Linked DNA regions of Homo sapiens. The protein of the gene in region 1 interacts with the protein of each later gene in a pairwise test. Each region holds a gene or a part of one and is shown on either strand. Other genes may lie near its edges. The genes, in order: MPG and HSD17B14.

Evidence for each region.
Region 2: the proteins of MPG (region 1) and HSD17B14 interact in binary tests that used the Homo sapiens proteins (3 or more experiments, as listed by UniProt).

What each region holds. Positions count from the first base shown.
Region 1 is NC_000016.10:76,477-80,380, forward strand, and holds the start of MPG (DNA-3-methyladenine glycosylase), read left to right. Parts: upstream 1-1,748; 5' UTR 1,749-1,833; coding exon 1,834-1,857; intron 1,858-2,662; exon of another isoform or gene 2,663-2,816; coding exon of another isoform or gene 2,817-2,855; intron 2,856-2,948; coding exon 2,949-3,224; intron 3,225-3,904. UniProt on the Homo sapiens protein: Hydrolysis of the deoxyribose N-glycosidic bond to excise 3-methyladenine, and 7-methylguanine from the damaged DNA polymer formed by alkylation lesions.
Region 2 is NC_000019.10:48,815,866-48,819,769, forward strand, and holds part of HSD17B14 (L-fucose dehydrogenase), read right to left. Parts: intron 1-3,904. UniProt on the Homo sapiens protein: Catalyzes the NAD(+)-dependent oxidation of L-fucose, yielding L-fucono-1,5-lactone, which rapidly converts spontaneously to L-fucone-1,4-lactone. Can also act on D-arabinose and L-galactose, with lower catalytic efficiency. Does not use NADPH.

The DNA.
Region 1 (3,904 bases):
GGCAGGGGCCAATCTGCTCTCCAAGTGATTCTCTTTCCTCATAAGAAAGGTGGGGATAAAAACACCCCTCTGGGAGCCTCTGGACTCCCCGTGAGTTCTGCAAGGACCATGTATCACTTGTAACATCAGAATAAATATAAGTACAAAGTAACACCCATCCTCTCCCTGCCCATCAAGAGGACAAAGGCTCAACTGGGGCCTCAGTTTCCCTACTAGACTGAGGGGGAGCACTCGGGGGGATGGGGGGCTGTTCCCACAGGAAGGAGAGACTCATTGTTTGGGAGGCATGGCTGCAGATAAGCAGGGAGGGTGTGGAATCACATCCAGGGCTGCTTTATAAACACGGATTGATGACACATTATGCCCCCACCCCGGGAAGCGGCACACAGTGCTACAAACAGCTGGTGGCTTCCAGCCGGCTGATGGCCCCTCCCTCCCCAGGAAGTCCTGGCTGGGGCCCATGGGGGTGGGACGGCTGGTCAGAGGAGGAGAGGCAGTTGGAGACCAGGTCCTGCCCTGTTAGCCTTTCTGTAGGACCAGGTGTCACACTCATCTGAGGGCTCCAGACACATGGCCTGTGCGTCTGTCCTGCCCAGCGTCTCCCACCTGACGCGGCCAGGTGCCCAGTTGCTCTTCAAGGCCTTTTCAGGTGCTCCTTTCCAGGACCAGGGTCACAGAAGTCAAAGCTCAGGAAAAGCCCCTCGAGGGTTTTTGTGCGGCAGAGGTGGGTTGTGGGGTGGGATTGTGCCTGCCACAGTGGAGGGGCCCTGCAGACCCAGATAAACCTTCAAGTGGCCAGAAGCGGGGGATGGCTCTGCTGGGTGCTGGGGCTGCCATGGGCCGTGGGAGCCAGCAGTGTGCCCAGCTCCCTCAGGGCCCGTCCCCTAGGCCCTTCCGTCCACTGGGCCAAGCACCGTCCCTGCCCCTCCCTAGGGGCATGGATCTGACTTGAGAGGTTGTGAGAGCTTACAGGCGCTGGGCCGTCGGGGAGGCCTCAGAAGCGTAGGACGGCTGCGCACTGCCGGGCCGTGTTCAGCCCTGGTCTGGCCTCGGCCTCTAGAGGAGGCTGCCTGCGCTCCAGCAGGCCCAACCCAGAACGTGGGCGAGCTCCCTTCAGCATCCCTGGGCGGAAAGAGGGATGGGGGCTCTGCTGCAGAGGCAGAATCCGCGCCGCTCCCTCCTTCCTTCCCCCGACCAGCCTGTGACAACCCCGGCCAGGGGCGGGGGCCTCCGCACAAGCCTGGCGTCCACTTCCTGGATAAGGACTCCCCGGCCCACTCCGGACCAGGGCTGGGGCGGCCTCCCAGGCGCTCACTCCGCTGGCACCCCACCGGAAAACACGTCTGCGGCCCGCCCCCTCCCCCAAAGCACGACCACTCCGCCCGGGCCCCTCGAGGATCCACTCAGGTTCACGACGGGCCCGTCCTCTCGGTGGTCTGACCACCGGCTGGTGGAGTGGGCTCTGGGGCCGCCAGGCGACCAGGGCGCAGGCGGGGGCGGACAGCTCATTGGGAGGGGCGCCGGGGCACAGTGCGGGGCTCGCCCCACCCCCAGGTGCCCCTTCCCCGCTCTCGCCTCGCAGGCACCGCATCGGGCCCGGGAATCGGTCCGGACCTGGCGGTGGGCGCTGGGAAGAGGATCCACCTCCACGTGGCCCGCCCCGCCCCGGGGGCGCAGCCAGTTCCCGGCGCTCACTGCCCCCCTTCTCCCGGCTTCCGTCCCCTTCTGCGCAGGCGCCGCTCCGCCCCGGTCCTAGGGGTGCTTCCGTGGTCGGCGGCTGCTGGGCTCCGCGCCGGGGTCCGAGTCCCACGAAGCCCCGGCCCGAGCCGCCGGATGCCCGCGCGCAGCGGGGCCCAGGTGAGCGCGCGCCTCGGCCGCCCCGCGGAACAGACGCGCCCACCCCCAGGCGCAGCAGCGAGCGCGGCCGCGGGAGCGGGAGTGCCGGGGACGGGCGTAGCGCCCACCGCCCCGAGGGTTCGGGGCAGAGCCAGAGCATAGGCCAAGGGCCAAGCTCGGGCCGAGAGCAGTGGCCGCAGCGCCCGGGGGCTGAACCCACGGCGCGCTGGCAGCGCGGGCCGAGCTGCGGAGACGGTCACGTCAGCGTCCGTTCCAGGCCGACTGGCAGTCTCCGTTCTACATTAACGTCAGCACTCCCGTTAAAAATAATGCATCTCTCCCATGCCAGGAGGACTTAGGTGCTGCTAAAGACCAGCCCTCCGGGTGCTGCCAGGCCGGCGCTCACCCGCCACCTTCATCTTCCCTTCTCCTTTGCCCCAGGACAGCCGAGGATGTGTGGTTAGGTTCCCCCTACCCATGGGGAGGCCAGAGGTGGGAGGCTGGCGGCCTGCTCGGTCTCAGCAGACCCTCCTAGTCCCTCAGGAGACCTTGCCTTTGCCCCACTTGCTCGTTATCCAGCCTGGGCCATGAAGCAGAGGACAGTTAGGGACCCTGAGCACGCGGTGGTCACCCCGGTGCTCACCCCTCCCTGTGTGTCCGACCTTGGCCCTGCTAAGATCCTGTGTTTTGAATTCTGGCAAGGGTTGGATGAAAGGGCAGGGCTCCAGAAACCAGCTCAGACGTTTGCTTGGGACCTGCATGATGAGTGGGAATCGGAGGGCACCAGCCCTGCTGTCCCAGGCTCAGGCCCCCATCTGCTCCCCAGGTCATGCAGCCTGGGCCCCCATGCCGTGCAGCTCGCACATATGTGGGGCAGAGCAGCCACCCTGCCCCCAGCAGCAGCCGTCCATCGTCAGACGTGATCATTTCCTGAGGCCTCGAGTGTGTCAGGGTGTTTGTGCCTCATAACAACCCACAGGATGGTCACCCCCGCTTTGCAGATGAAGAAACCAAAGCAGGTGGTCAGATCCAGTCCTTGCACTTCCTGAGCCTGACCTTACCACACAGCTGTCTCCTATTCGGATGCTTATTTATTTTTTTTCCCATTACAGTTTTGCCGACGGATGGGGCAAAAGAAGCAGCGACCAGCTAGAGCAGGGCAGCCACACAGCTCGTCCGACGCAGCCCAGGCACCTGCAGAGCAGCCACACAGCTCGTCCGATGCAGCCCAGGCACCTTGCCCCAGGGAGCGCTGCTTGGGACCGCCCACCACTCCGGGCCCATACCGCAGCATCTATTTCTCAAGCCCAAAGGGCCACCTTACCCGACTGGGGTTGGAGTTCTTCGACCAGCCGGCAGTCCCCCTGGCCCGGGCATTTCTGGGACAGGTAATGTGAACATAGCAGCGAGGGCCCTCCTGAAGTGCCTGTCACTGCAGTTGTCCCTGAACCCCTGTCCGCTGCCTGCTGGATTGGCCCTCAGTTAGTCCTCCTTGTCCTCATGCATTTAGCGGCTTTGCTCACACTGGTCCCTGCTTAGCTTCATCTCAGTTGCCTGAGGTCATCTGGGAAGAATGTAGAGATTGTCAGTGCTGCTTGCCCAGGGTGGAGCAGGGGTGCCACTGTCTGCCCCCGGCTCTGGGCATCTAGGGCAGGAGCACTTGCACCGTTAGCCTTCCTCACCGGCAATCCACCTCAGTTTTTCCACACGTGGGAACTGTGGCTGTGGCCAGTGTCGGGCTGCCCCTTCCCGCTGTAGTGGCTCACAGTGCAGTGCTGGCTTCCCAGGGCCCCTGCAGCTTAATGTAGGTCAAGGATCTGGGCTCTGCCAATCAGACTTGGAGTAAGAAGCAGGGACTGCCCAGGTCCCATCCTGGTGGGGCCTACGGTGCAGCCTGTCCCCACGAGCAGATGCTCACACAGCCGTGGCATCTTGGCTGGATCTGTTGGGAGCGAGGTGGTGGCGGTGGTCCTCGATGCCAAAGCCCCAGGCCTGCCTTTCTGGTTCTCCAGAGGCTCCAAGGCCTTCCCTTTGTCCTTTAATGAGCCTACTTTTAGGTTATAATCAC
Region 2 (3,904 bases), on another chromosome or scaffold:
ACAAAATTAGCCAGGCATGGTGGTGCATTCCTGTAATCTCAGCTACTTGGGAGGCTGAGGCAGGAGAACTACTTGAACCCGGGAGGTGGAGGTTGCAGTGAGCCAAGATTGCGCTACTGCACTCGAGCCTGGGCAACAGAGCAAGACTCCGTTTCAGAAAAAAAAAAAAAAAAAAAAAGAAATGCACTGTTTCCTGCCACCGTTTCTCCTGCAATTCAACTCCCTGGCCACCTGGGAAGTCCCTAAATACTCTCTCTGTGTGTGTGCGTGTGTGTTCGTTGACTACACATGACCTTGGATAAACTCAAATTCTATCTTTGATCTCGCTTGCCTTAGAAAGCTGAGCTGGCCAGGCAAGGCCTGTCCCTGCCACTTAAGACTAATTGGTACAAGGCAGCACCCCTAGCAGGCTCTCCGAGTGGGAATCTAAATGAGCTCCCTGCCCGGTTCCCCCCACCAACTCTTTCAAGCCATTTCTGCTCCCCTCCCAAACGACCTCCACCCTTTTCCGTGCTGTATCTTCGACACACCCTGCGTGTTCAAACCTCAGGGCCTTTGAACTTGCTGTTCCCTCTGCCTGGAGTGCCTTTTCCTAAGAGAGCCACATGACCCACTCTTAGGGTGGCCAGCCATCCCAGTTTGCCCAGGACTGAAGGGTTTTTGGGGACATGGTATTTTCAGTCCACAGTGTCAATGCTAAACGGGGACTTTCCTGGGTAAACACTCCCTCAGCTCCCTCAAACCCTGATCCGAGGTCACCTCCTCAGTGAGGTCTTCCCTGGCTATACTGTTTAAAGCTGCAAGCCAGGATCACTAGCTCACACCTGTAATCCTTGCACTTTGGGAAGCCGAGGAGGGAGGATTGCTTGAACCCAGGTGTTTGAGGCCAGCATGGGCAGCTTAGCAAGACCCTTTTTCTTTCTTTCTTTCTTTCTTTCTTTCTTTCTTTCTTTCTTTCTTTTCTTTCTCTCTCTCTCTCTCTTTCTTTCAGATAGGGTATCACTCTGTTGTCTAGGCTGGAATGCAGTGGTGCAATCTCAGCTCATTGCAACCTCCACTTCCCAGGTTCAAGCAATTCTCCTGCCTCGGCTTCCCGAGTAGCTGGGACTACAGGCATGTGCCCCCACACCAGGATAATTTTTTTTTTTTTTTTTTTTTTTTAGTGGAGACAGGGTTTCACTATATTAGCCAGGCTGGTCTCGAACTCCTGATCTCACATGATCTGCCTGGCTCGGCCTCCCAAAGTGCTGGGATTCCAGGCTTGAGCCACTGTGCCTGGCCTGTCTTTATTTTTTTTAACAACAAAAAAATATTTTTTGTTTTATTTTTTGAGACAGAGTCTCACTCTGTTGCCCAGGCTGGAGTGCAGTGATGTCATCTTGGCTCACTGCAACCTCCTCCCCCCAGGTTCAAGCCCTTCTCCTGCCTCAGTCTCCTGAGTAGCTGGGACTACAGGCATGTGTCACCATGCCTGGCTAATTTTTGTATTTTTTAGTAGAGATGGGGTTTCACCATGTTAGCCAGGCTGGTCTTGAACTCCTGAGGTCAAGTAATCTGCCTGCTTCGGCCTCCCAAAGTGCTGGGATTACAGGCGTCAGCCACCACGCCTGGCCCCAAAAAATAAAATAATAAAATAAAACTGCAGTTCCCACACCCCTGGGTCCCCTTCCCTCTTTCAGATGTCTTTTCTCTGTGTCACACACTCCCTTCTGACAGGCCATATATATTTTACTTGTTTGTTCATGTTCTGTCTCTCCCACCAGCATGCAGAAACCTATGAGGGATGGTCAAGATTTCTTATTTTGTTTCTTCCCCAGCACTAAAGGTGCCTGGCACATAGCACATGCTTCATAAATATCCTTTGAATGAATGAATGGGTGAATTAATGAATGAATGGAGGACCTGGTATGTGTCCAGCCCTGTCCTCAGCAATTTACATGGATTAGCTCATTTCATCCCTCTAACATTCTCCTGTACCTACAAGAAGGAGGTACAGCTGAGAGTCCCATTTCACAAGCGAGGAGACTAAGGAATGGAGGGATGATTGACGCCCGCAGGGCATCACGTGACACCTGACAGCACCAGCATTTGCTGCTGGACAGGCTGAGACCCAAACCCATAAACAAACAACAATTTCTCACAATTCTAAGTATTAAGAACTTTAGGCCAGGCACAGTGGCTCACACCTGTAATCCTAGAACTTTGGGAGGCTGAGGCGGGCAGTCACCTGAGGTCAGGAGTTCAAGACCAGACTGGTCAACATGGCAAAACCCCATCTCTACTAAAAATACAAAAATTAGCCGGGTGTGGTGGTGCGTGCCTGTAATCCCAGCTACTCGGGAGGCTGAGGCAGGAGAATCTCTTGATCCCGGGAGGCAGAGGTTGCAGTAAGCCACAATCGCACCACTGCACTCCAGCCTGGGCAGCAGATAAAGACTGTCTCAAAAAAAAAGAAAAAAGAAAAAAGAAAAAGAGAAACCATGCTCTAATATGAACGTGAATGATGTGGGCATTGACCAGCCTCTGCCCTCCTCCTCAGGGAACCTCTCATCCTCGCCTCCTCTCACTCCCACCAGCCGTGACACCCTCCCTCCCTCCCAGTGCCCACCCCACCTGCCTTGCTCCATTTCTCTCTCAGTCTGTGCACCTGCCCTGCTGTTTAATCTCCTCCCCCACCTGACCCTGCAAACATGAGTCTCACCAGGGCTGAGACACGGATCTTGCCACCCTCACCCCAGCACGAGGCACACAGCTGGAGCTCAGTAAATATTTGTCCCACACTCCCTGAGTGTCCTTCTCCCCACACCCCTCAAGGTTGCTAAGCACCTGCTCTATATCAAGGACCCGCTGGGGGCCAGGTGCAGTGGCAGGTACCTGTAATGTCAGTGCTTTGGGAGACTGAGGTGGGAGGATCGCTTCAGTCCAGAAGTTCAAGGCCAGCCTGGGCAACATACTGAGACCCCAGTTCTTAAGTGCCAAGGTTCTGAGACAGGAGCAGGCCTGTTGTGTTTGGGAGCAATGAGGCCAGTGTGGCCGGAGGTGAGGTCAGAGAAGAACAGGGGCCAGATCACGAGGCCTTGAAGGCCCCCACTTCTCCCTTGGACAAATGCAATCAACTCCTTTTTTTGTTTGTTTGTTTCAGAGACAGAGTATTGCTCTGTCACCCAGGCTTGAGTGCAGTGGCACGATCTCGGCTCACTGCAACCTCCACCTCCCAGGTTCAAGCAATTCTTCTGCCTCAGCCTCCCGAGTAGCTGGGATTACGGGCGCCTACCACCACGCCTGGCTAATTTTTGTATTTTTAGTAGCAACGGGGTTTCTCCATGTTGGCCAGACTGGTTTCGAACTCCTGACCTCAGGCAACCTGCCCACCTCGGCCTCCCAAAGTGCTGGGATTACAGGCGTGAGCCACCATGCCCAGCTCAAATGCAATCAACTCCTAATACTGGTTCTCCCACTCTCACGCTTAACCCTCAGATTTGTCCCTCATACCTACAGGAGCCAGAGCCTATGATCTGTTAATAATACTAACAGGATCACATCACTCCCTTGCTCAAATACCTGCCACAGCTCCCTATTGCTCTTGACATAAAGACCAGATGATTCAGCATGCCCTTCAAGGCCCTGCCTGATCTGGTTCCCACCCCAATCTCTTCTTGCAACATCCCGTTCTCTCACTGGGCCCAGCTGGCAGCAGCACCAAACCCTGTCTCGCTGCCAGGCCCTCGCCCTGCCATCTCTTTCTCCACCTCCTCCACTGGTCAATGCTGCTCAGATTTCATTACTTCCAGGAAGTTTGGCTACATTCCCTGAACGGGCCAGCCTCCAGGTCACACTCTCCCAGAACCACACCCATCCCCCTCATAAAGCAAAACACACTCTTCTGAACTCATGTCTCTGTTTA